Homo sapiens: one gene and its partners. The protein of the gene in region 3 interacts with the protein of the main gene of each other region in a biochemical or structural test. Each region holds a gene or a part of one and is shown on either strand. Other genes may lie near its edges.

The links.
Region 1: of the proteins of PRKN (region 3) and PINK1, one has a biochemical effect on the other in vitro, tested with the Homo sapiens proteins (12 studies listed by BioGRID, with this or other methods).
Region 2: the proteins of PRKN (region 3) and UBE2D3 form a complex in vitro, tested with the Homo sapiens proteins (4 studies listed by BioGRID, with this or other methods).
Region 4: the proteins of PRKN (region 3) and UBE2G1 form a complex in vitro, tested with the Homo sapiens proteins (5 studies listed by BioGRID).

The regions. Positions count from the first base shown.
Region 1 is NC_000001.11:20,643,458-20,650,457, reverse strand, and holds part of PINK1 (serine/threonine-protein kinase PINK1, mitochondrial precursor), read right to left. Parts: intron 5,969-7,000; coding exon 5,786-5,968; intron 4,899-5,785; coding exon 4,735-4,898; intron 2,144-4,734; exon of another isoform or gene 1,954-2,143; coding exon 1,826-1,953; exon of another isoform or gene 1,464-1,825; coding exon 1,227-1,463; exon of another isoform or gene 25-1,226; coding exon 1-24. UniProt on the Homo sapiens protein: Serine/threonine-protein kinase which acts as a sensor of mitochondrial damage and protects against mitochondrial dysfunction during cellular stress.
Region 2 is NC_000004.12:102,824,552-102,831,919, forward strand, and holds the start of UBE2D3 (ubiquitin-conjugating enzyme E2 D3), read right to left. Parts: upstream 3,001-7,368; 5' UTR 2,876-3,000; intron 2,308-2,875; exon of another isoform or gene 2,086-2,307; 5' UTR 1,958-2,085; coding exon 1,934-1,957; intron 1,312-1,933; exon of another isoform or gene 1,187-1,311; intron 767-1,186; exon of another isoform or gene 688-766; intron 1-687. UniProt on the Homo sapiens protein: Accepts ubiquitin from the E1 complex and catalyzes its covalent attachment to other proteins. In vitro catalyzes 'Lys-11'-, as well as 'Lys-48'-linked polyubiquitination.
Region 3 is NC_000006.12:162,437,552-162,445,029, forward strand, and holds part of PRKN (E3 ubiquitin-protein ligase parkin), read right to left. Parts: intron 5,923-7,478; coding exon 5,759-5,922; intron 1-5,758. UniProt on the Homo sapiens protein: Functions within a multiprotein E3 ubiquitin ligase complex, catalyzing the covalent attachment of ubiquitin moieties onto substrate proteins. Substrates include SYT11 and VDAC1.
Region 4 is NC_000017.11:4,300,346-4,307,823, forward strand, and holds part of UBE2G1 (ubiquitin-conjugating enzyme E2 G1), read right to left. Parts: intron 6,779-7,478; coding exon 6,676-6,778; intron 1-6,675. UniProt on the Homo sapiens protein: Accepts ubiquitin from the E1 complex and catalyzes its covalent attachment to other proteins. In vitro catalyzes 'Lys-48'-, as well as 'Lys-63'-linked polyubiquitination. May be involved in degradation of muscle-specific proteins.

The DNA of each region.
Region 1 (7,000 bases), on a different chromosome or scaffold from region 3:
TGCGGCTACTCGGGCAGATGGTCTCTGCAACAGGAAGGGAAGCTGTAGCTAGAACATCTGTTAACACAGTCTCAACCCAAAGCCTGCTTTGTTAGTGAGGGTCTTCCCTTCTCTGGTCCCAACCCAATTCTTCCTCTACCCTATCTCCTACTGATGCCCTTCACTCAGGTGACAAATACTGCCTGTCCCCTGCCCGTGCTCCAAGCTTTTCCATGTGTACACCTCTGCATGGGGCAGCATGCATTGTTGAAATAGCCTTTCCCCCTGGGTGGAAAGCCTAGTGCCTCTTGTGCACAGCTATCTGGTCCCTTGAACCAGGTAAGTAGTCTCCTCTATCATTTCATAACTGGTTGCAGCTGTTGTTCTAACCTTCACTGCGCACCAAGATAGCAGGCCACGTACAGAGAGCAGTTAACGGAGTGGCAGAACAGTGCTGGGGTGCAGGTATGGCTCAGCTCTTTGCACTAAGCCTGCCCCTGAGCCAGCTGCCACTCCAATTATGGCTTCGGATAGGTCTGCCTTTGCATTCCTTTATATTAATTTCACAATGTCCAGATCTGCTCTCAGGAGATGTTTTCCATCTCTCTCTGATCAGTTCTCAGCTGCTTCCATGAGCTACATCTCCATTAAACATTTCTCAAAAATGCCTCCTTTTCTCTCTCTGAATAGCCTTTTTTTTTTTTTTTTTTTTTTGAGACAAAGACTTGCACTGTCACCTAGGCCAGAGTGCAGTGGCGCGATCTTGGCTCACTGCAACCTCTGCCTCCAGGGTTCAAACGATTCTCCTGCTTCAGCCTCCCGAGTACCTGGAATTACAGGCGTGTGCCACGACACTCAGCTAATTTTTGTATTTTTAGTACAGACGGGGTTTTACCATGTTGGCCAGGCTGGACTGGAACTCCTGGTCCCAAGTGATCCACCCGCCTCAGCCTCCCAAAGTGCTGTGATTATAGGTGTAAGCCACCGTGTCTGGCCTCTGAACAACTTTTTCAGCAACTAAAAAAGCCACAGGAGTTGAACTGCTAGGATTCTGACTATGCTGTGGTGGCTAGTGCTCCTACTCCTACCTACATTAAAATCTGTTTTTTGTTCTCTTGTAACTAGCCTTTACCTTCCTAACACAGAGGATCTGTCACTGTGGCTCTGGCCCAAACCTGACCTTCACTCTGGAACGAGAACAGAGGTTTCTACCCACACCGTCCCCTCGAAGCCGGGGACAGCCTCACCTTGCTGGCCTCTCGCTGGAGCAGTGCCCTCACCAACTGTCTCACGTCTGGAGGCACTGACTCGGGCAGTGCAGGTAGCTGAGCCTCTTGGTAGCTGCGGCTTTCAAGGTGGGCCTTGCCCTGGCCGTAGAAGGGATTGACAAGCCCGAAGATTTCATAGGCGATGGCTCCCACTGCCCAGGCATCAGCCTTGCTGTAGTCAATCACTGCCCTGGGGCCAGGACGGGCCGTGGACACCTGCTCAGAAGCAGTGGGTGAGACATCACGCTGCCCGCCCATCTAACCTTTTCATGTCCTGCACATCACCTGATCCATGGGCTAATCTGAACTCTGTCCCAAGGAACCCAGAGCTTGAGTGAGCTGTGGCTCAGACCCAGAAGGGGTCTGCTTAGACCACCTGGTTTATGTGACAGGACTTGCATTCTCCTGGAACATGAGGGAACGCCGGAGGAAAGCAAAGTGGCAGGGAAGGAACTTGTGCCAAATTATGGGTCAGAAAAGATGGAGGTGTTGGGTTATCACAAGGCATCGAGTCTCCTGCATTCAGTGGACATGTGGGGGAAGGGCTGCCGATGGCGCATGACACACTCGGGACTCACCTCTGGGGCCATCAGACAGCCGTTTCCGCCCCGATCCACGTACCAGCTGCTGAAGGGCAACTGCAGGCCGATGCTCTCATCAGCCAGGCAGCAGCCAAAATCTGCGATCACCAGCCAGGGGCAGCCGTCTGGGAAGGAGCAAGCAAAGTGACCATTTCTCCTCCCCTCCTTCCCTCTGAGAGGCCCTCCTATGTCCCTACTAAAGCCACCAGCAAGACATAGCTGACAGGGGCTAATGGCTCAGTGTTGGCCCAGGAGGTCAGCAAGGCCTGAGAGCTGATCAGAAGGGCCTGCTGTGCGAACACGGAAATGCCTCCAGTAAGTACAGGCTGCAAAATCCCCAGGCAAAGGACTGTGTGGCTCAATTTAAATCATGTTCTAGTAATTGGAGCTGTCCCCAAGACCAAAGGAGCTAGAGCTTGGTTCAAATGATCTCCAAGGGCCCTTATACCCCAGGAGACTTTGATTTGAATTTGAAACCCCAAATCCAAACCTAAGAACCAGGTGCATTAAGAATCAGTTATTGCCGGGTGTGGTGGCCTGTAATGCCAACATTTTGGGAGGCCGAGGCGGGTAGATCACCTGAGGTCAGGAGTTCAAGACCAGCCTGGCCAACATGGTGAAACCCCTGTCTCTACTAAAAATACAAAAAAACTAGCCAGGCATGGTGGTGTGTGCCTGTATCCCAGCTACTCGGGAGGCTGAGACAGGAGAATTACTTGAACCTGGGAGGTGAAGGAGGCTGAGACAGGAGAATCACTTCAGCCTGAGCAACACAGCGAGACTCTGTCTCAGAAAAAATAAAAAAAGAATTGGTTATTTGTAAAAGGGTCCACACAAAATTCCTTTAAAAAGCCAGTTCCTGGCTGGGCGCAGTGGCTCACGCCTGTAATCCCAGAACTTTGGGAGGCCGAGGCAGGCGGATCACGAAGTCAGGAGTTCCAGATCAGCCTGACCAACATGGTGAAACCCCGTCTCTACTAAAAATACAAAAATCAGCCAGGTGTAGTGGCGTGTGCCTGTAATCCCAGCTACTCAGGAGGCTGAGGCGGGAGAATTGCTTGAACCCGATAGGCAGGGGTTGCAGTGAGCCAAGATCATGCCACTGCACTCCAGCCTGGGCGACAGAGTGAGACTCCGTCTCAAAAAAAAAAAAAAAAAAAAAAGCCAACTCCCAGCTGGGCGTGGTGGCTCATACCTGTAATCCCAACATTTTGGAGGCTGAGGTGGGTGGATCACTTGAGGCCAGGAGTTTGAGACCAGCCTGGCCAACAGTGAAACCCCATCTCCACTAAAAATAATAATCCCAGCGCTTTGGGAGGCCGAAGCAGGTGGATCACGAAGTCAGGAGATAGAGACCATCCTGGCTAACATGGTGAAACCCCGTCTGTACTAAAAATACAAAAAAATTAGCCGGGCGTGGTGGTGGGCGCCTGTAGTCCCAGCTACTCGGGAGGCTGAAGCAGGAGAATGGTGTGAACCTGGGAGGTAGAGCTTGCAGTGAGCCGAGATCATGCCATTGCACTCCAGCCTGGGTGACAGAGCGAGACTCAGTCTCAAAAAAAAAAAAAAAAAAAAATCAAAAATTAGCTAGGCGTGGTGGCACCTGCCTGTAATCCTAGCTACTCAGGAGGCGGAGGCACGAGAATTGCTTGAACCTGGGAAGCAGAGGTTGCAGTGAGCTGAGATGGCGCCACTGCACTCCAGCCTGGGCAACAAAGCAAGATTCTGTCTCAAATAAATAAATAAATAAATAAGTAAATAAATAAAGAAATAATAAAAGCCAGTTCCTCTAGTCAATTATTTTAAATCTTCTAGTTCAAAAATTTATCAGATGTATGAATCTCCTTACAATTTTCCTAGGCAAGTGGCCATTCAGCTTCTACTTGAATGCTTCCAGTGGTAGGCAACTCATTTCCAGAGGCAACTGGGCTTACATTTGGACAGCTTTCATTGTTTGAAAAATTTAATTAATTAATTAATTTATTTTGAGATGGACTCTCACTCTGTCGCCAGGCTGGAATGCAGTGGCACAATCTCGGCTCACTACAACCTCCGCCTCCCGGGTTCAAGCAATTCTCCTGCCTCAGCTTCCCAAGTAGCTGAGATTACAGGCGCCCGCCACCATGCCCAGCTAATTTTTGTATTTTTAGTAGAGATGGGGTTTCACCATGTTGGCCAGGATGGTCTCGATCTCTTGACCTCATGATCTGCCCGCCTCAGCCTCTCAAAGTGCTGGGATTACAGGCGTGAGCCACTACCCCCGGCCGAAAGTTATTTTTTATAATGAGCTAAAGTCTACTTCTCTTTTACTTTATTATTTTTTATTATTTTTTTGAGATAGGATCTCACTCTGCTGCCCAGGCTGGAGTACAGTGGCACATTCATAGCTCATTGCAGACTCTTAACTCCTAGGCTCAAGTGATCCTCCGACCTCAGCCTCCCAAGTAGCTGGGGCTACAGGTGCATGCCACCATGCCTGGCTAACTTTTTTTCCGGCTAATTTAAAACATATTTTTTTTTTGTAGAGAAGGGATCTCACTCTGTTTCCCAGGCTGGTCTCAAACTGCTGGCCTCAAGCAATCCTCAAGCAAGCCTCCCAAAGTGTTGGGATTACAGGTGTCAGCCACTGTGCCGGGCCTCTTTATTTACCTAGGAAAACTTGCAGCACTGAGGTCCTTGTTCTTTAAGTGGGCTAGAGAAAGGAACTTGGGAAGTGCTGTCTCTCTGCAAAGAGAGAAAAAAAAACCCCGTTCTAAGGGAGAGATTGCTAACCTCTTGTGTGCGGAGCTAAATAAAGACATGACTTAGAACACAAAACCAGAGAGGACCTGAAGAGTCAGTCCTAAATGCTCCTGACCCACCCTCTAGTGCCCCTGGAGAGCTCTGATGGTGCAGCAGGTTCCTACCTGGGTCCAGCTCCACAAGGATGTTGTCGGATTTCAGGTCTCTGTGCGCGATGCCCTGTTGAACCAGATGGTCCACGCCTTCCAGCAGCTGCAGCAGCATCATGGCGGCGAGGCGGGGGCTGGGTGTGTTCACACAAAGGTACTGGCGCAGGGTACAGGGATAGCTGGCGGAGAGGGGAGAGGGCCTCTGGCTACCACACATCGACGACTCCCAATACGTTTTTTTTTTTTTTTTTGAGATGGAGTCTCACTCTGTCGCCAAGCTGGAGTGCAGTAGCACGATCTTGGCTCACTGCAACCTCCACCTTCCAGGTTCAAGCAATTCTCCTACCTCAGCCTCCCGAGTAGCTGGGATTATAGGTGCCCGCCACCACACCAGGCTAATTTTTGTATGTTTAGTAGATACAGGGTTTCATCATGTTGGCCAGGCTGGTCTCAAACTCCTGACCTCAAGTGATCTACCCACCTCCGCCTTCCAAAGTGCTGGGATTACAGGCGTCAGCCACCATTCCCGGCCTCCTAATAACCTTAATCACTGTTAGGGTTAGGCCGTTCCTCTTCCCCTTCCAGGAGCACTTTGATTCCCACTTTTCCCCAGCATCCTTTCTGTTCCCTCCCACTCACCATCCTCAAATTAGGAAGTAAGAGTTGGGGCTCCCTATATTCAAAGTAATGGTGCAGATAATTATTTCCTTAAAATAAAATACCCACTATAGCAAAGTTAGGGGATACAGAGGGTGAGGAAGGAGAACGGTTTTTATGTTAAAAACAGATAAGTCCAGCCACAGAAAAGGTTAACAGTCAAATGGACCAAAAGGACTAGGTGACAAGTATGTTCTGGATGAAGATGAGAGTTTGTTTCCATGAAAAATCGTCCTACAGGGAAAATGCTCTCCAGGGCAGATATGTTCCCTTTGCATGGCTTTCTTCTCCGGAAGGGTGATGACCCTGTTCTCCAAAACCCCCTGATCAAGGTGCACATGGAGGGCAGGAACCAGCTCCCCTTGGGAGATGTATCAGCTCCAGGCCCTGCCGCGCTGCTGTCACTTACTTCTTCATAACGAGGAACAGCGTCCGGCCATGGCCCAGGCCTTCAGGGTGGAGGCGTGAGGGCAGCACATCAGGGTAGTCGACCAGGGCCCCTGGCAGCAGCGGCACGGAAGAGGTGAAGGCGCGGAGAACCCGGATGATGTTGGGGTGAGGGGCTAGTTGCTTGGGACCTCTCTTGGATTTTCTAGTCAGCCAAGTGAGACAAACATATGAGGCCAGCATCAGATACAACACCTGGAAAGAATAACCTAAGGCCACACCAACACTGGCACTGACATTCATTATTCACTTACTATCAAATGTTTATCATAGATTTGCTATGTGCCAGGTACTGTACATGGTGTTGGAGAACACATCTGATGACTCCCCTACCCATCCTTCAATCCATTTGTCCATCCGTCTGTCCGTCCGTCCATCCGTACACCCATCCATCCTATCCATCCCATGTGGCAGAACACAGGTGGAGAAACCCTGGTATCAGACTGCCTGGGTTTGCATTCCAGGTCTGCCACTGTAAGTCCTTGGCTGAGTTGCAGTAGCCCCAACCTTATCCACAGTTTTGCTTTCTGCAATTTCAGTTATCTACAGTTTGAGAATAGGTGAGTACAAGAAGATATTTAGAGAGAGGAGAGAGAGAGAGACCACATTCACATAACTTTTATTACAGTATATTGTCATAATTATTCTATTTTATTAGTTATCTTTAATTTTTTACTGTGCCTAATTTATAAATTAAACTTTACCATAGGTATGTGTGTATAGGAAAAAACACAGTATATATAGGGTTTGTTACTATCTGTGGCTTCAGGCATCCACTGGGGGATCTATCTTGGAATGTGTCCCCTCTGTCCTTATCTTCTCTGGGCTCAATCTCCAGGGTGCAAGGGGAATGCAGTGTTAACACGCTGCATAAGGTTGTCAAAGTGTGGAAGGCACCTAGAATCGTGTCTAGCACAGAGGAAGCTCTCAGCTGCTATTAGCTGTACTATTATTCATTCAACCAATACGCACTGTTTGCATGCTGAGTACCAGACATCATGCTGGAATGCTGTGGAACTATGGCACAGAACAAGACAGAGTCCCTGTCCTCATGGATTTGCAGTCTATCAGGGGAGAGAGATATTCATCAATGAGTAATCATGTGAGCTCCCTAAGAGCAAGGACTGTGCCTGAATTTTCTCCATTATTCCAAGTCTAGTACAGTAGTTGGCATAGA
Region 2 (7,368 bases), on a different chromosome or scaffold from region 3:
GCTAGAATTCTAACTGGAGCATTTCTGCTCCAATGTTTACACTCTTAACCACTGTTATATTGTCTCTCTAAAGCTTTTAAATCATTTAAGTGGTGTCACAGCAGCTGGGTATGACCTGTAAGAGAAAAAAAATCAGAGGCCTTCCTTTAACGTGTTCTGTTCCACATGCACAAAAAGCTATGGATCTGGTACTATTCCACATTTTAGTGGCCTGAACTAATTCCAACAGAAAAGATTTTTATTTGTACTGAATGTTATGCTCTTTGTGTAAACCACACTGTAACATACAACTAGGCTTCTCCAATATGTTCCTGGCCTTTAAAGTGGTCACAAAAAGAGGTAATTATTTCAAAATAATTTTTACTTTAATCCTTAACTCCTAAAAAGCGTTTCTTCCTCTTTTCTTTCATTTCACAAAGATTTAAATTTGTATTTCGCATAACCCAAAATGACGATGTTATGAAGGCCCAAAACAAAATTCACGATTTCATATCAATACATACTAAGAGTGAAGATTTAAACCTTCCTCTTTCATGAAACACCAATCTTGCCAAATAAACTCCAGTCATAATTAAATACAGGCAAATGTAGTATCAGGTCTATTTTAGTAAAGGCAAATTCTTGCCATTCCTCTCAGAACTCTTTTTAAAAAAGTAATCTATTAAAACCAAAGTTTCTAACACTCACCGACACTCCACAATTTTTCTAGTAAGGCTGAATTTATTCCATGACATTTTTTTCAAGTTAGCTGTAAACACTCCACCCTCTTCGATTGTGCAACAACCAAACACATCACACAAATACAAGTCACAAAAAAGGGAAATACAGTTTAAGAGTTTGAATTTAGGTAAGTTTTGAGCAGAGGATCTTAGAGCAGTGCACAACGCGATATAAAAGTTAACATTTAACAAATCATATTAATTCACATTATTACGAAAGGAGATGCCGGAAAGAGCCTGAACCAGTTAAAGCAGCCGCCATCTTAAAATGCGGGATAGAAGTTAGAGCAAGAAAATGAGACTAAACCACCGGAGGTGGAGGTTCCGCTCACTCCCAGAGCTCCGAAAAATCCTAGTTTTTTTTCAACTTAAATCGATAATATACTATCAAACCACATTTCAAGTAACGAAACAAGGGTGTTATTAAATAGAATGAGGCAAAAATAGGTACATTAGCTTTCCCTTACTGCCATCGCACCCCTTATCCACCCCCACTCTCCAGCCAAAAGGAAAAGGGAGCTTCCAGAATGCCTTTTACATCAGTTCCCGGTGTCCCTCGGATAAATAGCTTCGGGTGAAAAGCTGCAACTACAAAATACAGGAAGTGGCAACACTGTGTCATTCCATCTCCTCCCAAACCCACTTATTCGGTGTAACCTGCCCAGAGTCGACTAAGAGTTTCTACTAGACTCACTGACTGACCTTCAATACGCAAGACTTCTTCTACCCGACCCTCAGTCAAGTTCGGGACTCGCCAGATTTTTTTTCTCTCCTCCGAGTTTTCTTTCTTACCCCTAGAAGGCCTAGATAACCTTGATCTCACAACTAAACTAAGTTTTCAAGCACCAAGAATAGGAAGCGCCATGACATCTGCTGGAGCGTCTCTCCGCAATTCGGACCCCCAAAAAAACTCCTTCTTAAGCAGCAAAAAAATAAAATAATAAAGGCGCCTTAAGTCACTCTCCTCCACCCCTAATTTGCACCGATTCCACTGAAGCACTCAGGATAACACCTCACTTGCCACAAGTGTTCTCCGTTTCCTAGCTTTAAACTTCATTTCTTCAAGAAGTATATCTGCGTTCTCCATCCCCCCATGGAAGAAGTGATCCAAGAGGTATTTTCAGAATTATGCTTCCTTCCCACCCCCACGCTTTCCTCTTGGCCCGAGCCTTCCTTTTCTCCTACCACCCCATGCCCTTGTCCCCGCGGGTTACCTTATTAATCCGTTTCAGCGCCATAGTGTGTGCTTGTCGTCTGGCTCCTCACTCTCTCGGTGTATGCTCAAAGGTCCGGCCAAAACTCTTGATTATCCCGGCGGCGGGGCAGGATTGTCTCGTCTCACACCAGCTCTGCCAGACACAGGCGCCTTTTGCAAAAACGGAGCAGATCAGCACTCGCACAGGCCCCGAAGAGCCCCTGATGAATCCAGGTCCCTTAAGACAGCCGCGATCCGGGGTGGGTGGGGTGGCGTGGCAAAGCCACCAACAGCCTCTGTACCGTGCTTTCGGCCCGAAGTGGGGGCGAGGGTGACGGGAAGAGCGGAGGTGGTGGCTACAAGTTTAACTTCCCGGCCTCTAGAAAGGAAGAGACCCGGGTGGGAGAGGAAGAGGCGTAGGAGAAAGGGGTGGGTGCGGGGCAGGGTCCGGAGCCCAGCAGAGGAGGAGCCGGGGCCTAGTCGGCGCTATACCGGCGTCACTAGGGCAAAGAAAGGCAAGGGGGGAGGGGGAAGCATAAGACTCCGGACGGACGCCGGGCTGCTTTCGGTTTCTGTCCAAAGGTGCGGCCGGGAAAAGGAAGGAAATAAAGGAAGGGAGACTTGATGTGTATTGCTATCCTCGCAGCGAGCTATTCTGTGTCACCCCTGACGCCACCGTACACTCACTCCGCCTTCCAGCGCGCTCCCGCGCGCGCCCGCCCAGCCACCTCCACCACGCGCCCGCGCTGTCCCTGAGGCTCCGGCTTAGGCGCGAGGACGCGCCCATTCCCCCTCCTCCTCCAGCAGGAGAGGCCGCGGCTTCCCCAACCTTCCCACCCTAACCCACCGCACCCAATAGGCTGGCCGCTCAAGCCGCCCAGGTCCCGCACTGCCCCTCTTACCCGGCCGGCCACTGGGCCGGCCTCCCTTCCCTGCCCTAGCCGTCCACACCCACGCGTACAGAGGGGCCGGGGCCTCCCTCAAGCTGCGGCCTCGGCCTCCTCCCCGCGCGGCAGCTGGTGCCTCCCCGGCCCTACGGGGCTCACGCGCACGACACAGCCACAAGATGTCCGCTCTGACGGAACTACTGCCAGCTGCCACGCTCCGCCCCTCCCCCTCCTCCTGCCTCTTCACCGCCGCGGATCAGTCCGCCAACGCCGCCGTCCCGAGCACAAGACCGATGTGAGGCCGAAGCCAGACGGCTTGCTTCCCACGTCCGGGGCCGAGTGAATACGTGTCAAGCCCTTTTCCTTCTTCTCGGAACAGCACCTTCTTACTAAACAGATCGGAGATTGGACCAGGAGGGCGGGGGAGGGAGGAGGATCATGAGCTGGGGGGAGGGTGAACGAGTGGCGGAAACCCTTAGGCTCAGAGAAGCATCGAGAACCGGAAGGAGACCATGGGAGGAAGGTAAAGGAAGCAGCCGCTGCGCGATCCAGCCCCACGCCCCTCCCCACAGCGTCCCCCAGTTTCCTCACTTGGTATCGAGGAGACGACTCTCGCGAGAACTTCGTGGCTGGCTAACCGAAGCGGTAGCTCTGCAATGACTTAAGAGCAGTTTTGTGCGCTTTTCCTGACGGGGTTCCGCCTCCAAAATGCATAAGTTCTCGCGAGACGCAGTAAGGCACCGGCTCGAACTGGGGCGGGCCACTGCCAGGAAAGCAACGCCCCTGAATGCTTATGCCGGTGGTTGGTAGAGGAAATGGAATTCCCCAGACTGGTAAGAGCGCGCGCAGACACAGCCTTGTCTCACGCGCCCAATCAGGAGCGTGTGGTGGGAGGTGCCAAGGATTAATTACCAGATACCTTTAGTCTAGCTCGGGCCGGGATTTTGAGGTTTCCGGTGGAGCAGGTGAGCAGTATTTACTCGCCTGCCCTCCTGGGCTGGTTATGCTGTGGGAGGAGGCGCCCCTCGAGATGGGAATAGTAGTTTTAAATAGACCCAGGTTGGCCGCTCATCAGCGCTCCCACGTGCTGAAGTCTAGTGCACGTCTGACCCTAAGGGAGCAATACTGAGAACAGCAGGGAGCAGGCTGAGTCAAGCTCAATTGAGTGGATGGGGCTAGGACAGAGAGAGTTAGGGGCAGGGTTTTCACTGGTCTCCGTAATCAGTCGCTGCCGTCCGCCAAGGTGTAGATGTGGGAACAAGCTTAAATTCTCAAACTTTAGCTTCTGTTGCTGTGTTTCAGTTCTTGAGCCAGAAAGTGTTGAGACTAATTAGTTAATTAGGTAGAGTTTAGAGTCAGAAAAACAATACAATACTTCCTGAAATATCCAAGTTGGGAGGTGGGATTTACCTCAGTAGGATTGGCCTGTTTTAGTCAAGGGTTTAAAGTATGGAGACGGCAGTTATGCTCTCTAGTGTATCCTTCAGGCAAAAGAAAGACCTTAATTTTTATGAGGAATTTAAAAGTGGGTAAGCACTGACCAGCTTAAGGTTTTTTAACATTCCTTAATGACCCCAGTTACCGAAGTGGAGATCTTCAATTACTTGGAAAAATAAACTTGTTTTAAAAATACACTTAATTTGAAAACTGTTGCAGAAAGTTTTACCTAATAAAAACTTAACACGTCAACAATGATGAATATAAGTAGTCTAATGTATACTGTTCAAGTGACCATGTAGTGTCACTAGTGAAGCAGTGCTTCTCAAACTAGTGTCCATAGGAACCACCTGGGGTTTTGTTGAAAATGCGACTTTGATTTGGTAGGGCAGTGGTGGAGCCTGAGAGCCTACATTTCTAACTAGCTCCCAGGTGATACAGATTTTTCTCGTCTGAACCACCCCGTGAGTAGCAAAGCACTGAAGTGCTTACCTCATGGCCTAACTGCTCATGAGGCTCACCTCAGTAACACCTCTGGCCCCTCCCTCCTCCCTGAATAATCTGTGTTCTCTCTCATAGCTAGCCAGATATACTAAAAGCACAGGACTAGGCATGAAGATGGAGGGAGGAACCCAGATTAGTTATTGCTTCCCATTTGCTTGATATTGGCCTGGTTAGTTATCTTCTAACCCCGTTTCTTCACCGCTAAAGTAAGTAATAATGACTGTCCTTTCTCACAGGGTGATTGTGTGGTTAAAGTGTCATAATATATGTGAAAGGACACTGGAGACTCTACAGTGCTGTATAAATGTCAGTTATTAAAGTAACCAGTCAGACATTAACTGGCCATAGTGTGAAACAAATGTATAGTAGTAATAGTGGCCACGCCTGTAATCCCAGCACTTTGGGAGGCTGAGACGGGTGGATCATATGAGATCAGGAGTTCGAGACCAGCCTGGCCAAAACAGTGAAACCCCATCTCTACTAAAAATACAAAAAATTAGCTGGGCGTAGTGGCGGGCGCCTGTAATCCCAGCTGCTTGGGAGGCTGAGGCCGGAGAATCGCTTGAGCCTGGAAGGCGGAGGTTGCGGTGGGCCAAGATCACTGCGACAGAGTGAGACCCTGTCTCAAAAAAAAACAAGAACAAAAAACAAAACTAATATATATGGAGTTCTAGATTATCCATGCTTATAAAGGCAAGTGATTGTGTAATCACAAACTCATTATTGTTAGGCAGTGAAGTAAATTCATTGGTTGATTGGGCTTTCTGTTTACAAGTTTGTATTTGCATAAGTGGACTTACATTTCTGCTTATATTTTGCCATGGTTAAAATCAAAAGAAACATAGCCTAGAAGCATTTTGATGCCTTAGGATAAAGCAGGCTAAGATTAAGTTAAATTTTAAAACATTATTCATGTACCTGTTGTTACAGAGAGCCCACTTTACAGTTGCAAATAAAGTTAAAACATTTTCATTCATTTAACTTACTTGAATTACAATGGTAGAGATGTCCTCATTTGAAACAAGAAAGGAAAATAATCATGTTTTTTATATTGCAGTCGGAAATAATGCTAACAAGAAAAAAATTATGGCTGTAAATACTGAAAGAAAAATTTACATTTAGAAATTAATAAAGGTACAAAAATGTTGAAAATTTAATTAACTAAAAATAATCCCTTCCTTAATAAATACTATTTTGAAGTCCTAAAAACTTTGTAAATATAGTAGATCAGATTATCTTGCATGAATTGACATAAAACATGAGAAAATAGAAAGGATCAAGAAAATTAAAGCTGGGCTGGTGGCTTACGCCTGTAATCCCAGCACTTTGTGAGGCCAAGGTGGAACGATCACTTGAGCCCAGGAGTTTGAGACCAGCCTGGATAACATAGGGTGACCCAGTCTCTACAAAAATAATAAAACAATTAGCTGAGCATGGTGGTACACGCCTATGGTCCCAGCTACTTGGGAGGCTGAGGTGGGAGGATTGCCTCAGCCTGGGAGGTTGAGGCTGCAGTGAGCTGTGATTGTGCCACTATACTCAAGCCTGTGATGGAGCAAGACCCTGTCTCAGAGAAAATTACTAGTAAATGGGCAATTAATCTACCAATCTGAATAATGGTGGTGTGCCAGGGTCTTATTACATGAATTTTTCAGTGAGGCCACGTTATTATAATAACTTGAGAGTAAGGGGTTAATTAGAATGTATTGATGAATAAACATAATTAACAGATTTTATATATATGTACTTAATATTGTATCTATGTTTTCATGTATCTTTAATTTTGTTACAGAATATTATAACTTGCCAAAGACACTGGCTCTAGTACAGTGTATACCATTTTATTAGTTTAATTAAATTGTAAATGCTACGGTCCAGATTTTATATTCAGAATGCTCATTTACATATTCTGCCTGGACCAAGTAATTTGGAGCCCAGGTCAACCAAATGTTATTTTACATTGTTTGCACAAAAATCAAATTGATTTCTATACTTAACAATTCAGAATCTCATTAAGTCAAATTAATATGGTTTAAGAAAGTGTACTTTATTTCATGCTAAGATGTCATTTTGGCCTTAATAAGGCTTTTGGCATGTAATGAAGCATGCACAAATCTTTGAGATAAAAATAGAGCATTTTTCCACACAAAAACATATATATACACAAATGTTCAGAGTAGGGCTATTCTACTTTTTAGTAGAAACAACTCAAATGTCCATCAGCTGATGAATGGATAAAGAAGATGTGATATATGTGTATAATGGAATATTATTATTATTATAAGGAACAAAGTACTAATACATGTTACAAAATGTATCTTGAAGCCTTAAAACATTCTGTCAAGTGAAAGAGCCAGACACAAAAGGCCACATACTGTTTGATTCTGTTTATGTGAAATGACCACAATAGTGCATTCTGTCTTCCAAAAAGCTGGTTTACTTACAAACACAGGTTAAAAAAATATATATTTGTAATACTGCTTTTGGTGTAGGGTGAGGCACGATAAAGAGACTTTCATTCGGTTTGTCAATCAGTGATACTTAGGTCTGAATAGGCAAGTGGGAGTCTTTCAGGTTTAGGACAAAGAATGTTAATGTAGTAGAGATCTGTTGATAGAGTCACTCC
Region 3 (7,478 bases):
ACCCTTTCACAGTCGTACCCTCCTCTCACCTGCTTCCACCCCCTTCAGAACTGCTGGGAAGCATGAATCTGCCCTCCATTTCTATCATTTTGTCGTTTTGAGAATGTTATATAAATAAAATTATTCAGTGTACGATCTTTGGGGATGGGCTTTTTCCACACAGCACATTTCCCCTGAGATCCATCCAAGATATTTTGTATATCAACAGTCGGCTCCTTTTTTACTGCTGAGTAATATTCTAGGGTGTGGAGGTACCAGTTTGTTGAACCACAGATCCACTGAAAGACATCAGAGTTGTTTCCGTGTTCTGCTAATGTGAATAAAACTGCTATAAACATTCATATACAGATTTGTGTGTGTACCTACGTCTTCATTTCTCTAGGATAAATAACTAAGAGTATAACTCTGTCATCTGGTAAATACATATGTCATTTTTTATGAAACTGCTATATTCTTTTCCAGAGTGGTTCTACCATTTTATATTCCCAGTAGCAATTTGCGAGTAATCCAATTTCTCCACATCCTCACCAGCATTTGGTGTTGTCTTTATTTTGTATTTTAATTTACCTACTTTACCTATTACTCTAGATATTTCTTTATACATTCTTAACTTGTCATGCTCTACTGCAGTTGCTATTTTGTAGGTCAAGTTTAGAAATCTTACCTTTCCTTGCATCTGTGTTTATGTTTGCCTGAAATGTTTCTTCTACATGTAGAACTACATTAGACAATGCTATAACTTTTGCTGCAACCCTCTAACATAATTTAGAAAACTCAAGAGGAGAAAAACAGTGCATTGTATTTAACCATATTTTTGCTTACTATGTTTTTCCCTCCTTCCTAGTGTTCCAAAATTCCTTTTTTTGTTGTTTCATTTGTTTAGAAAATTTCTTTAGCCATTCTTTTAGGGTAGGTCTGCTGGTGACAAATTCGCTTAGTTTTTCTTTATCTAAAAAAAAAAGTATTGATTTGTTCTTTCTTCCTGAACGACATTTTCACTGGGTATAATATTACAGGTTGGCAGTTCTTTTCTTTCAGCATTTGAAAAACATTGTGCCACTTCCTTCTAGCCTTCATGGTTTCTGATGAGAAATCCACTGTAATTAGAACAATGTTAGCCCTATAGGGAAGGTGTGATATTTCTCTGGCTTCTTTCAAGATCTAAAATTTGTCTTTAGTTTTAAGAAGTTGAATTACGTTGTGTGTTGGTGTGGGTTTCTTTGGGTTTTTCCTGTTTTAGATTCACTCAGCTTTATAAATCCATCTATAACTTTATGTCTCTTGCAAACTTTGGAAGTTTCCAACACTTATTTCTTTGAGCATTTGCCCACCATTATCTTCTCCTTCCAGGAATCCCCTGACACAAACTTTAAATGCTCTGTTGGAGAACCACAGGTCTCTGAGGCTCTATTCCTTTTTTCTTTTTCCAGCCTACCTTTTCTTTGCCATTTGGACCGTGTCATTTCTATGTTCCAACTTCCAGTTCACTGACTCTTTTCTCTGTTCCTTCCATTCTTATGTCAAACCCATCAGTGAGTGTTTTATTTCAGAAATTTCAAACAAGAGGCTCTCCACTCAGCCTTTACTAGTGTTGGTGGGGACAAGGATAGGGCCGCAGTTTTTCTGTTGCATTTGGCTGGAGTAGACTGGTTATTGTCTAAATGTTTTCTATGTTGCTAGGCAGCCCCTTTCTGAGTCCTCTGGATAAAAAACAGGCCATTGTTGGGGATTTCTTCCTTCCTTCCTTTCTTCCTTTTCCCTTCCCTTCCCCCTTCCTTTACCCCTCCCTTCTCTCTCTCTCTCTCTCTCTCTCTGCCCCTCCCTTCCTCTCTGCTTCTTTTTTCTTCTCTTTTCTTTTTGTCTATATATGTTGACATTTCCTGGTTGCCAGCTTCTTCAGTTCCACATCTGAGGTAACGTAGCAAAAAGAAAACTCAAGAAATTCACCTCTGGATTCTTCCTTGGGTTCTAAAATCCCTACTCTGTCCACATTCTTCTCACTACTTTCAGAATCTTCCTAAGCTTGTACAGCGGACCCTTGAATAACATGGGTTGAAACTGCATGGGTCCATTTATATGCAGATTTTCTTCTGCCTCTGCCACCCCTGAGACAGTGAGACTAACTCCCCCTCTTCCTCTTCCTCTTTAGCCTACTCAACATGAAGACAAAGACAATGAAAATCTTGATGATCCACTTCTACTTAATGAATAGTAAGTATCCTCTCTCCTTTTTGTAATGCTGTTAATGTTTTCTCTAGTTTTTTTATTATAAGCATACAGTACATATTACATATGAAAAATATGTATTAATCAACTGTTCATGGTATCAGTAAGGCTTCCCGTCAATAGCAGACTACTGGTAAAGTGTGAGGGGAGATAAAAGTATACATGAGTTTTGTCTACATAGCGGTTGGCACCCCTAACTCCATGACTCCACGAGTCAACTGTACAATATGCAATGTCTAGGCTTTTTAGTGTAGTTGCTGGGAGGAAGAGGGAAAAGTATGCCTACTCCAGCTTCCCAGAAGCAAAATCTGTGCCAGATCATTCGTTTTCAATGTCTATATTTTTTCCATTTTCCTTTAATTTTTTAAAGTTCTTAAAGTCTTGCCAATAACAAAACTGAACAGATGAGTGTGTAATGAAAATAACTATACTCTAACAGTGCTTCTCTAAGTGGCCTGTGGATATGCTCTCCCAGAACTGAAAATTCTATGAAAATTTTTTAGATGTGACATCAATTCTATTATAATCTTACAAATACCCTTTGCCAGTTAAATAGACAAACTCGCTTTTTAAAATTATGACATTTCATAAGACTGTGGTCTCAAGCTATAGTTCCCCAAAGTACCTGAGGTGAGGCACTAAAACTAATTTCCTCCTCAAAGAAGGTGAAACTAAGTGTGAGAGATACTGCTCAGTATGTGGGGTGACCATTGCCTCAGTTTTCCTAGGACACTCCCAACATATAATTTTGTCCTGGAATAATTATTGACAGGGTCTTCTTTTATACTCACAATATCTCATTTTGCATGATAAGCTAATATATATGTTCATATCACCTATGATAAAGAATACGAAACCAGGAGGAAGACACCCAGCAAGCATAGACACCACCCCAGCCATCTCTTCTTCTCTTCAGGACACCAAGGTGTATATTTAACATTCATTAATGGAAGCATTAAGTAGCTCATATGGAAGGTCCATCTTCTTTTTCTCAGCAGCAACTTATTATTAGATATTTTGTGCTTATACTGTGAAATATAGCACCTGTAATGATAATGGGTAACTAAATGATATTGACTAAATAGTTGTAAACATATGTTCTAAGATTATACAAGAATATCTAGGATGCTAAAATTCTGCCAGTTGTACACTTAAAGAAAACATAGCCATCAATTTGCAATTACATGTGTAACTTCCTAGTCTTTACAGTGAAACTCTTCTATGAACAAAGTTTGCCAACTTCTCGGCACCTAAATCATTTAACTGTGATTTAATAGAAGTTCCATAAGTATGAACCTTTCTTTTTCAGTGTCCTCAGACACAAGTTCTCAACAGCCAGCTAGGCATCTCCAAACACACGTACTCAGCTGGCATCAACTCCCATCATGTTGGAACAATGCAGCATCCTTCCCCCAACCAAACCGGGTCTTCAGACTTCCCATTTCCTTCTATGGCATGACATTTTTCTCTAGTTCCCCACCAATGAAACTTCAATGCCAAGTTAGTCAAGGTTATGTGAAATATAGCCCATATTTTATTTTTTGTCCAATCTTCAACATCTCTCTTCAGGTTCTAGAAGAACAAGAACCCATCCTTTTTGGCAAGCATTCTCTATGCTCATTCCCCTATTCCTCCATCTACAGAATCCTACCTCAACTCAATTCATCCAAGAAGTTCTTCCTGGTGACTTCCAACCAGATGTGTTTTCTCCACCTTTAAAACTTCATAATATTTTCAGGTGCGATACGGCAGTTATGTTTCATATTCTTATATTATAGCTATTAGGTTGAACAACATGAAATTGTTGAACCTGTAAAAATGGCAATCCCATATGGTTCAATCTAATATTTCTCTCGGTTTTAGGGCTCATAAATAAAGAGCAGTCTCCATGAAAACAGGGGCTGAGTTAGGTCTCTCTTTTGGATCCCCTGAGAAGCCTAGGACATTGGAAGTGCTTAAGAAGTGTTTGTCAAAATAGACTCATAAATCAACACATGTCTTAGGCATATATGTTTGCAAAGTCAATCATCTGAAGCAATTAGTCTAACTACATATGAAATCGCTAATTGTTTTATGAATCAGCACAAATGGCAGTTTAGAACCTGAAGGTTTTGGCAATATAAAATGTTTTGATTCAAGGAGCTGTTTTAAAATTATTTATTTGTGAAGGAAACATCCTTGGATTTAGAGGTTGGCAGATACAGTGAAAATCTTTTTAGTTGACTGAAATAGAAAAAAAAAAAATCAAAACCCTTTTTAGCACATGCACTTCCCTTATAAAACCAAATTGCCTGAAAGCAGAGGCCAGCAGTTTGTGCACAACGAGTATGTGCCTCAACACCATCAGCAGGAGATGCAATGCAGAATGACAGGAACAATTTGCATTTCTGTAGCTTCTTTGTATACCCAAATTCTGAGAGCATTTTACAAAGCCATAAATATCGTTACCCACAAGAGACAGGGAAAGGATGCAGATACAAGGACGGACTTTGTGTACTCTGACCCAGGAGCCCCCCTGCGCGGAGCAGTGATACCCACACAGCTGTAAACCTGAGTGCAATTAATTGATGCTGGTTAAGAAAAGGGGAACATACATCTGCAGGGTCCTTCACAGTCACAGGGACCATTCCCAGAAAGCGTTTCGTCTTTCTTGCATTCACAAAGAATAGCGTCAACAAATGTTGAGTTGTATTTGCGAGTTTCCCCAACAAAGGACGGGTCTCTAGTTCTAGGTGATGGTGGTATTATCAGTCACCTCACCAGTCCCCCTAATTCCTACAAAAATCACCAATCCGAATGACATGTGTGTAGGGCTTTCATGGGGCTAGGAGCAGTGGGCTGCCAGAAGCTCTGCTGGGGCCAGGAGAGAAGAGAGCATCGTTCACACTTATTACGTTGCAGGGGCCTATTTCCAGGGACAATGTTACTGAACCTTGGAGAAATTCATGCAAAGGTATACTGTTGTTGTGCTCCAGGCTTCCTTCCCCATCAGCTGCAGAACTGTGCGATTCTGGTCCTGGCCAAGGAGTGCCCAAAGCTAGTTGCCAATGGGCCCCGGAGCCCACACCTCCTCTAGCGCAGCATAGCAGCAGCCCTCACTAACCTCCAGGGGTCACAATTGGGTTACAAATTCCTCACAGTGCAGGGACTGAGCAGCCTGATTGGGAACAATTTATTCGAATCCTTCTTCGTTAAGATTCAAATGGAATAAGTAAGGTAGAAATTGAACAGACACAGAAATTGTGCCTTGCTGCTCCTGTAGTCAGTAGACATTTATTCACTAAGCCTAGCTCGTGTGTTCTTTCTCTCTCTCTTTCTCACTCGCAGTTGTTCTTCCAATCTTTCCTGCTTGCTGTTTTAATGCATAATTAAGAAGGTCAGAATTAATGAAGCAGTGTGGAGTAAAGTTCAAGGAATCCCCAGGCACTATTTATTCTATTAGATCTCAGGCATGAATGTCAGATTGGCAGCGCAGGCGGCATGAGCAATGGAGCTGGCGGCATCCCAAGAACGGCCGCCAAGGGAGACTCACCTGCACAGTCCAGTCATTCCTCAGCTCCTTCCCTGCGAAAATCACACGCAACTGGTCAGCCGGAACCCCCTGTCGCTTAGCAACCACCTCCTTGAGCTGGAAGATGCTGGTGTCAGAATCGACCTCCACTGGGAAACCATGGCTGGAGTTGAACCTGACAAACACTGACCAAGGAAATTGGAAGGGAGAAGAGAAAGTGAGCATCACTCGAAGCCCTTAAATGGTGATAGCAACATTTCTCAACCGATTTACCCCTCGCAGCCCTTCAGTGAATGGTATATATTTTCTTTCACTTACAACAAAAAACTTAATGCTATAGAGCAATATTTGGGAAAAACAGAGTTAGTTACCCACGAGATTTCCCTTTCATATATTCGTCAGTGACCTGCAAACCAAAATTGCATTCTCCCTTTGACATCCATCCTGGGAAACAGAGAGACTTGAGCAGGACACTTGCTTGATTGGAATTGAAAGAGTCCCATGAGTTTATTGAAAAGACTCAGCTCTGACAGCATGTACACACTCACACTCCCTCCACAGTGACCCTCTTAATAAAAATAGGAGGCGATGTGTTAGCACTCAAGGTATAGCAATGGAAAAAAATCTAAGCTGCTCTATAGACCAGAGTGAAGACCCACTCGGGGCTATGGCTCAGAGCCCTAGACTTGGGTGGTCCTGGCCAAAATGCTCCACTGGGTCTATGAAGACAATTATTTGCCCTCTTTTTGGCAGGGAGGGGGTGGAGACACTAGTGACACCATTTGTCTTATTGAAGCCACTGTTCCCCGTGAGACCCAGGCTGCATCCTCTAGTCTGTCTGTCTGCATGCCGTCTTCTCACTGCACCTGCTGTCCCACCTCTTCAGCGTCTCTCACTGCCCTTTACTTTCCATTCTTTCTCTCACTGCTTGAAGTCACGCTCTCATCACATCTTTTCTAGAGTCTCATAATAGCCCCCAACTGGAGTCTTGATCCACGCCATCACCTCCAAAAGGCCCTACATAGTTCTGCAAAATGAGCCTTATTAATACAGAGCTATGTCACACCACTCAAATCCTTTAAGTCTCACACTGTCGGCTGGTGAGGAAAGACTCCAAGATCCCTTTCATCTAGCACAAACCTACATTCCAGCATTTTCTTCATTAATCTCCATGTGTACTCTTTTAAACTAAATGCTCCCAGAAAAAAAAAAATCACAAAAAACTGCTGCACACAACTTCTTGCTTTTATTCATGACCTCCCTCCTTCTCCTCTTCCTATTGAAATCCTGCCTACCTCCATGGCCCACTTCAAATGTGACCTCCCCCAAGAAGCTTCTGGCTATCAGCTACTGCAAAAGCCTGATCTTCCTTATTCAGGGCACCAGTGGCATTTACTATATATGTCTTTTAATATTCACCACATTCCTCATGGAAGCAGGATAGCACACGGGTTAAAAGAACATCCTGAAGCATTAGGAAGACCTATGAAAAATCCCCACAGACTCCTTTAATTGGCTTAGGATGCTAGGGGTCAATCTATTAACCTCCCTCTTTAGGTCTCAGTTCCCTTATCTTGAAAACATAAATAAACCACAGACCATATTATTCGGTTCATTAAATAATATTTATAGTATTTAAAACTATCGTCTTGTAACATTTAAAAATAATGGACATTTAGCTGTTTTTGATATACATTTTGCCTTCTTTAAAAGATAACAAACTCCTCAAGGGCAAGTGTTA
Region 4 (7,478 bases), on a different chromosome or scaffold from region 3:
CAACCTGACCAATATGGTGAAACGCCGTCTCTACTAAAAATGCAAAAATTAGCCAGGCGTGGTGGCAGGTGCCTGTAATCCCATCTACTCAGGAGGCTGAAGCAGGAGAATGGCTTGAGCCTGGGAGGCAGAGGTTGCAATGAGCCAAGATTGTGCCACTGCACTCCAGCCTGGGCCACAAAGCAAGACTCTGTCTCCAAAAATAATAATAATAAATAAATAAATAAAATAAAATTTAAAAAGGCACCAATTAATTCAAAATATCTTTCATTACATATTATCTTCATCACAGATGCTATAGTATAAGTACTATCATGATATTAAAAAGAGGTATGTAGGCCGGGCACGGTGGCTCACACCTGTAATCCCAGCACTTTGGGAGGCTGAGGCGGGTAGATCATGAGGTCAGGAGTTCAAGACCAGCATGGCCGAGATGGTGAAATCCCATCTCTACTAAAAACTACAAAAATTAGCCAGGCATGGTGACAGGTGCCCATAATCCCAGCTACTCAGGAAGCTGAGGTAGGAGAATCACTTGAACCCAGGCGGCGGAGGTTGCAGTGAGCAACAGAGTCAGACTCTGTTTTCAAACAAAAAAAAAAGAGAGAGAGAGATATGTAACCAGCAGTTTCACATTTGAAAGTGTTTAAAAACCCAGGCCTAGTTCAATTTTTTTCCATGAGGCCTCCATTACTGTTTTTGAGTTAAATTATAAAAATCTTACAAGGATCAAATCCTACCATACTGCCATATTTATTTTATGTAAATAATGTGCTGTATGCTGCCGTCTGCAATTTGCTCAACATTGTTCTATTAATCTATAGTCCTGTTGTAGCTGTCTCTTGTCCATTCATTCTATCCGCCACAGTTCACTATTATTCTATGATAGTCAGAATCACATAGTCATGTGATCACTGACTTGGCTGTGCTCCGTGGGCACTGCTTTTCTGCCAGGTCCTGGAGTTGTCACCCCTTTTGCCTCTCAGCCTCCCACGGGCGCAATGGAGGAGAAGGATGAGAAAGCATGGGTGCTGCTGGCCCTTCTGTGGCCTCCAGTCACCTGGCTATGACTTTTGATGCTGTTATTGATGTGTTTCCTTGGCTTCAGCAGCTATTTTTGCTATAATAATCCTGCTGCCCTTCAGACTCAGGATAAACGGAACAGGCAGGTGAACACCATGAAATTCATGCTGCTATATGCCTGGTATTCTTGGCCCAATGTAGTTTTGTGTTTCTTTGGTGGCTTTTTAAAAGACCGAGTATTTGGAATATGATGGGGCACAATTACTTTTAGCTGTTTTATTTGCACTGGACAGGTTGTTTTGTTCTGGGTGGAATATTTAATGTTTTTTGGCTGATGGAATTTGAAAGACTTGTGTTTGGATTGGTGGGGAGTGCTCAGCAGTTGCCCAGGACATATGCTGTCAGCTGGTTTAAAGACAAAGAATTAAACCTGGTGTCTGGACTCCAACAATTTAGCATGGCTAGAATTGGAAGTACGGTAAACATGAACTTCGTGAGTTGGCTGTATTCTAAGATTGAAGCTTCGTGGGGTTCTGCTGGTCACACAACCCCTGGGGTCACACTTAAGATTGGGGGTATAAAATGTATTCTTTCACTAATCTGTGCCTTCCTTGGCTCTTGCTTACTTAGATGCGAGAGCAGAGAGAATCCTTCATAAAGAACAACAACAACAAAAAAAGGGGGGGGAAGTTTTTACATTAACTGATGTAAAGGATTTCTCCTTACCCCTGTGGCTCATATTTATCATCTGTGTCTGCTATTGTGTTGCCATGTTCCCTTTTATTGGACTTGGGAAAGTTTTCTTTACAGACAAATTTGGATTTTCTTTCCAGGCAGCAAGTGCAATGAACAGTGTTGTATATGTCGTTATCAGCTCCCACACCCCAGTATTTGGGCTCCCAGTGGATGACACGGGGAAGAACAGCATCTGGGTTCTGCGTGTGGTTGCAGCCACTCTTGTGTCCCACATGATGCTGGCCTTTATGATGTGGAGCCCTTGGGTTGCTGTGTCTTCTGGGAATCTCCTATTCATCGCTTGCCTGTGCATTTTGGCCAACAGTGGCATCTGTAGTTCCTGAACATCAACTGGGAACTGCATATGGCTTCACGCACTCCATTCAGAATCTTGGGGTGGCCATCATTTCCATCACTGCTGGGATGGATGATACTGGACACTGGGGGATATTTGTTTTTAGAAGTTTTCTTCATTGCCTGTGATTCTATGTGACTTTTATCTGTGGTCTTACTCTATTTTGTGAATCATGCCCAGGGTGAGAACCTAAATTATTCCACAAGACAAAGGGAAGAAATAAAATTTTCCCATACTTAATAAGTTTAAATGACTGTGTCATGAGAATGGGCTTTTGCACATCACTGGTTTGAAAATCTCCATTTTTAAAAATTTAGAGTTTAGTCATGAGAAAAAAAATAATGGAATGGCAAGTTGTATTTATATCCAAATACACCTATTTCAAAGTGTATTTGTGAGAACTATTTTAGCCTGTGTCTTCTGTATTGTGTGTTGCTGAAGAATTCTACAAAAGGCCAACCAACAATGAAAGGTTTAGAAAACTGCTCTGGAACATCCAGGTGAACTTCAGAAAAGAACAGTGAAAACAGAAAAACACAGGAGCTTCTTTTGAGATTGTCTTCATTAAGTATGTGTCTAAGGGATACAGCCTTTTCTTTATCTTACAGCAGAAAAAAAAAAAATTGTGACAGACATTCCCTTTCCTGGTAGGGGCATAATGCTAGAAGACATGTGAAGATATTTGTATGAAGTCTCTTTCTACTCACAACCAGTAGCTTGGGCTCTACTATGTGGTTATGTGGACTGCTGAGCAGTGACCCTTCTGAGTTGATTTTTCTGTTACTGAGTCCCCTAATCTCTTAGGGACACAAATTATAGTACAAACAGTCTGTACAGTTTTTCATATAGTCTAATTAGTAACTACAAAGTGTCCTTCGAATTATAATTGACATTTACAAAAATAAATAATAAAACTGCAAAAGGGGAAAAAATAATTTTTTTTTTGCTATTATAAGCAATAGAACATGGAACATTTGAAACATTTCCTAAGCATAGGGTTTTTACCCTAGAAATGAAACTGCTAAGACCAAATTTAAGTAATTGTTCAAAGTCACTCAACTAAGAAGAGTGGTAGAGTTAGAGAGCTAACCAAAGGCAGTCCCCAAAGTCCATGTTCTTGAACACTACGTGATAAACCGCATGGCATTACCACTGATCATTCCATTTCCAAGCAATGTAGGCACTAGGTTCATTCCCTCCAGAACTTCATTACAGAAGAGATGGCTTCTGCCTCTATGTCTCACACAGGACTGGAAAATAATTTATAACTGGAATAGAATTTTGCAACTGTAAAAGAATGTAATTCAGAGTTTTGGTTAACTGATTCTTCATTTTCTATATCTACCCAAGGCAATACTACAAAACACATAATCTTAAGATTCTCCAGATTTTTCATATCATTGCCAGTGCTTAAAAACAAAATAAATAAATAAGACATACTCCTTGAACAGACCAGCCACTGGTGATGAAAGGAAAAGAGAGATAAAAGTTATACAGTCATCATTCATTAATAATTTATAAAATGTTATAATGATACAGTGATATCCAGGTTTCTTAGACTTTCTGGTTTTGTTTGTTTGTTTAAGACAGGGTCTAGCTCTGTTGCCCAAGCTAGAGTGCAGTAGCGTAATCTTGGCTCACTGCAGCCTCCACCTCCTGGGCTCAGCCTCCTGACTGCAGGCATGCATCACCATGCTTGACTTATTTTTGTATTTTTTTTTGTAGAGACAGGGTTTTGCCATGTAGCCGAAGCTGGTCTCCAACGTCTGAGCTCAAGCGATCCACCCTTGGCCTCCCAAAGTGTAGGGATTATAGACGTGAGCCACTGTATCCACCCTAAACTTCCGTACTACAAACCTATTGCCACTTCTACCTGAAATTTTAATTTCTGTGGATATGAGTGGTTATCCATACTGTTTGATAATCAGTCTGAAAACAGTTGGTATACCACACCAGTTTCAGAATGTACATTTCATAGAAAGGCCTTAGGGACTACTGCACTGGAAAGACTCATTAATAAAAATAAAAATGTAATGCTATATAAATATGAGTATGACTGAATTAAGACTTGTGGCAACTATAGGAGTCTCAAAGTAATCCTTGAACGGTACCGGTTATCAATCACATAGACTGAAAAGAGAGTGGAGCGCCCTCTAGTGACTACATGAGGGCTAATGATGGCACAGAGAGATAATCACAGCAGCTTTTACAGAATTTTGGTACAGTATTTCTATTATCTAATTATAAAGTGGTGAATTAATCACTTAGGTCTGGGTACCATCTGAGCCTATACTAATTTATTTTCAATCCTATAACACCCCTCCCCCCAGCACAAGCCTCTACTTCCCTTCACAGGCAGTTATTTAAACGTAAGGTGTATATATTCACTTCCAATAGTGCTCTTCAAACAATTCCAAGATGGCCTCTACTCTCTCCATTCCACTGAAATAATTACAAGAACCTCACTACTTTCTGCTAAGAAGTTTTTTAAGAACTTTTTTTTTTTTTTTTTTAGATAGAGTTCTGCTCTTGTTGCCCAGGCTGGAGTGGGTGACACGATCCCGGCTCACTGCAACCTCTGCCTCCTGGATTCAAGCGATTCTCCTGCCTCAGCCTCCCGAGTAGCTGGGATTACAGGCATATGCCACCTCACCTGGCTAAATTTTTTGTATTTTTAGTAGAGACAGGGTTTCTCCATGTTGGTCAGGCTGGTCTCCAACTCTCGACCTCAGGTGATCCTGCCCACCTCGGCCTCGTGAGCCACTACGCCCGGCCGACAACAAATATTTTTTAAGCATTCTATGAAGTACATGGTTCTTGGTAGCATTCTAAAAGGCTTACTTCTAACAAACCTTTCTTCATTCCCCTGTACCTTCCTTTGCCTTTCTCAGGTCCTGCCCTAGGAATATGCTCTCTCTTTCCTGAGCAAAGGCTAGTGATCTCAGGAAGGCACAGTCCAGAAGTGACCACCAGTATTCTCAGCAGCATATACACACTCCAGCAGAGCTGCCAGAAATATTGCTGTGATTCACATCTCAATTCAACAGCCAACACTTTTAAAAATGTACACCAAAGACCAGAGACGGTTTTGTTTTCTTTTTTGAGACGGAGTCTCGCTCTGTCACCAGGCTGGAGTGCAGTAGCGTAATTTTGGCTCACTGCAACCTCCACCTCCCGGATTCAAGCGATTCTCCTGCCTCAGCCTCCTGAGCAGCTGGGACTACAGGCGCCCGCCACCATGCCCAGCTAATTTTTGTATTTTTAGTAGAGACAGGGTTTCACCATGTTGGCCAGGCTGGTCTTGAACTCCTGACCACAGGTGATCCACACGCCTCAGCCTCCCAAAGTGCTGGGATTACAGGCGTGAGCCAACGCACCAAGCCAGCAGATGCATCTTACAAAACAATACATACTAGTAAATTTAAGTTAGTCTGCAAACACTCAGAGCAGAAAAGAAGACTGTGGTCTTTGCATCTAGAAATGTACGACATGAAATATTTTTAAACTCTATTTCTCTTCTTCTACTGCTCTTTCACACCACTACATTGTTGTCTATCCTTAAGCCATTGGTTTAACAATTAATAGTCAGTTAATAGATTATCATAGAGCATAACAATAACTTTCAATAAACTAGGAGAAAGTGACCATTAGTTTAGTTTGGGATAAGAACACCTAGATTCTAACCAGTATTCGGTGGGGACTCAAGTAGAGAACCATGAAAAGAGACGATCTTGAAAGTTCTCCTTAGCCTTCTTAAAACACTGATGTGTGTAATACATTCTCAATTAAAATGTCCAAAAATTATATAACTCTTCTGCCTCCTGAGTTCAAGTGATTCTCCTGCCTCAGCCTCCCGGGTAGCTGGGATTACAGGCATGCCACCATGCCCAGCTAATTTTCGTATTCTTAGTAGAGATGGGGTTTCACCATGTTGGCCAAGCTGGTATCAAACTCCTGACCTCTCAGGTGATCCACCCACCTCAGCCTCCTAAAGTGCTGGGATTGCAGGCATGAGCCACCGCGCCCGGCCTGAAACTATTATTTTTAATAGCAATAGGTCTTAGACATTAGAGCTTCAAGCAAAACACAAAAACTCTTCCATGATCAAATTCAGTACAAAGGATATTGAATACAGCCATTTCTCCTGCTCCTTAAAAAATAATTTCATGTCAGTTTGCCAAAATATTTGTGGTTTTGCTTTGTTTTGTTTTGAGATGGAGTCTCACTCTGTCACCCAGGCTGGAGTGCAATGGCGTGGTCTCAGCTCACTGCAATCTCTGCCTCCTGAGTTCAAGTGATTCTCCTGCCTCAGCCTCCTGAGTAGCTGGGACTACAGGTGCATGCCACCACACCCAGCTAATTTTTGTATTTTTAGTAGAGATGGGGTTTCACTACATTGGCCAGGCTGGTCTCGAACTCCTGACCTCATGATCGGCCCGCCTTGGCCTCCCAAAGTGCTGGGATTACAGGTGTGAGCCACCGTGCCCAGCCTGCCAAAATAGTTTTTAATTCAGTGTATTAAAAGAGCTCCATTTTGAAGATGTCAGTTCCATTATACTTACTAAAGTGTATCTGGAGGGCCAATAATAAGGACTTCCCATCGGTAGAGATCATTGTCATCTATTAAACCTGCAGAAAAGCCTTCCACTGGATTTTTGTTGAGTTCTGTGGAAAAAGAAAAGTTTAATCAATACATTTAAGCACATAATTTGCATCCAGTAGATAAATTACAGAACTTGAGCGTACATGTTTTATGTAAGTTTTAAACCATTAAATAGATATACCTTGCCAGGCAAAATGCTACTTGATGGCCAAAACATTTTCATGCCTATACTGTAAGAAAGCCCTGGGTAAAGCAAACTATCCAGAAGATCAACTTCTACTGGTATCCAGCCAGGCTCTTGTCATTCTAAGTGGCCCTACAGTGGTCTTTTAAGGAAGCTTGTTAAAATGCAGATATCCAGGCCCGTCCCCCAGAGATTCTCATTGAGAGGGAGCCCTGGAAATCAAATCATGTTGGCAATTCTTATGCTGCTGTCTTCAGGGTATACTTTCAGAGTGTCTAATCATACCTTTTCATTGGAATGTACTGCGCTTAATAACTTTCATTTATACTAACATTTGTACACCTATTTGACTTGTCCCTGTAGTCTTGGGGACCTGCTTCTACAGTGGGTGCTCCTGTGTGCCCATCCATCTCTGAGCACAAGGAGAGCAGGGGCCCCATATGTCTTGTCTGTATATGTCGACCCTCTGAGAGCCACAGCTTCTGGGACAGAGGAGCAGCTTAAGAGTAACACCTGGAGCATACAGAATGGCTGCAGCATCGTGAGGTTCTCCTCCTCTAAAGAGAGTGCTGTGGCAT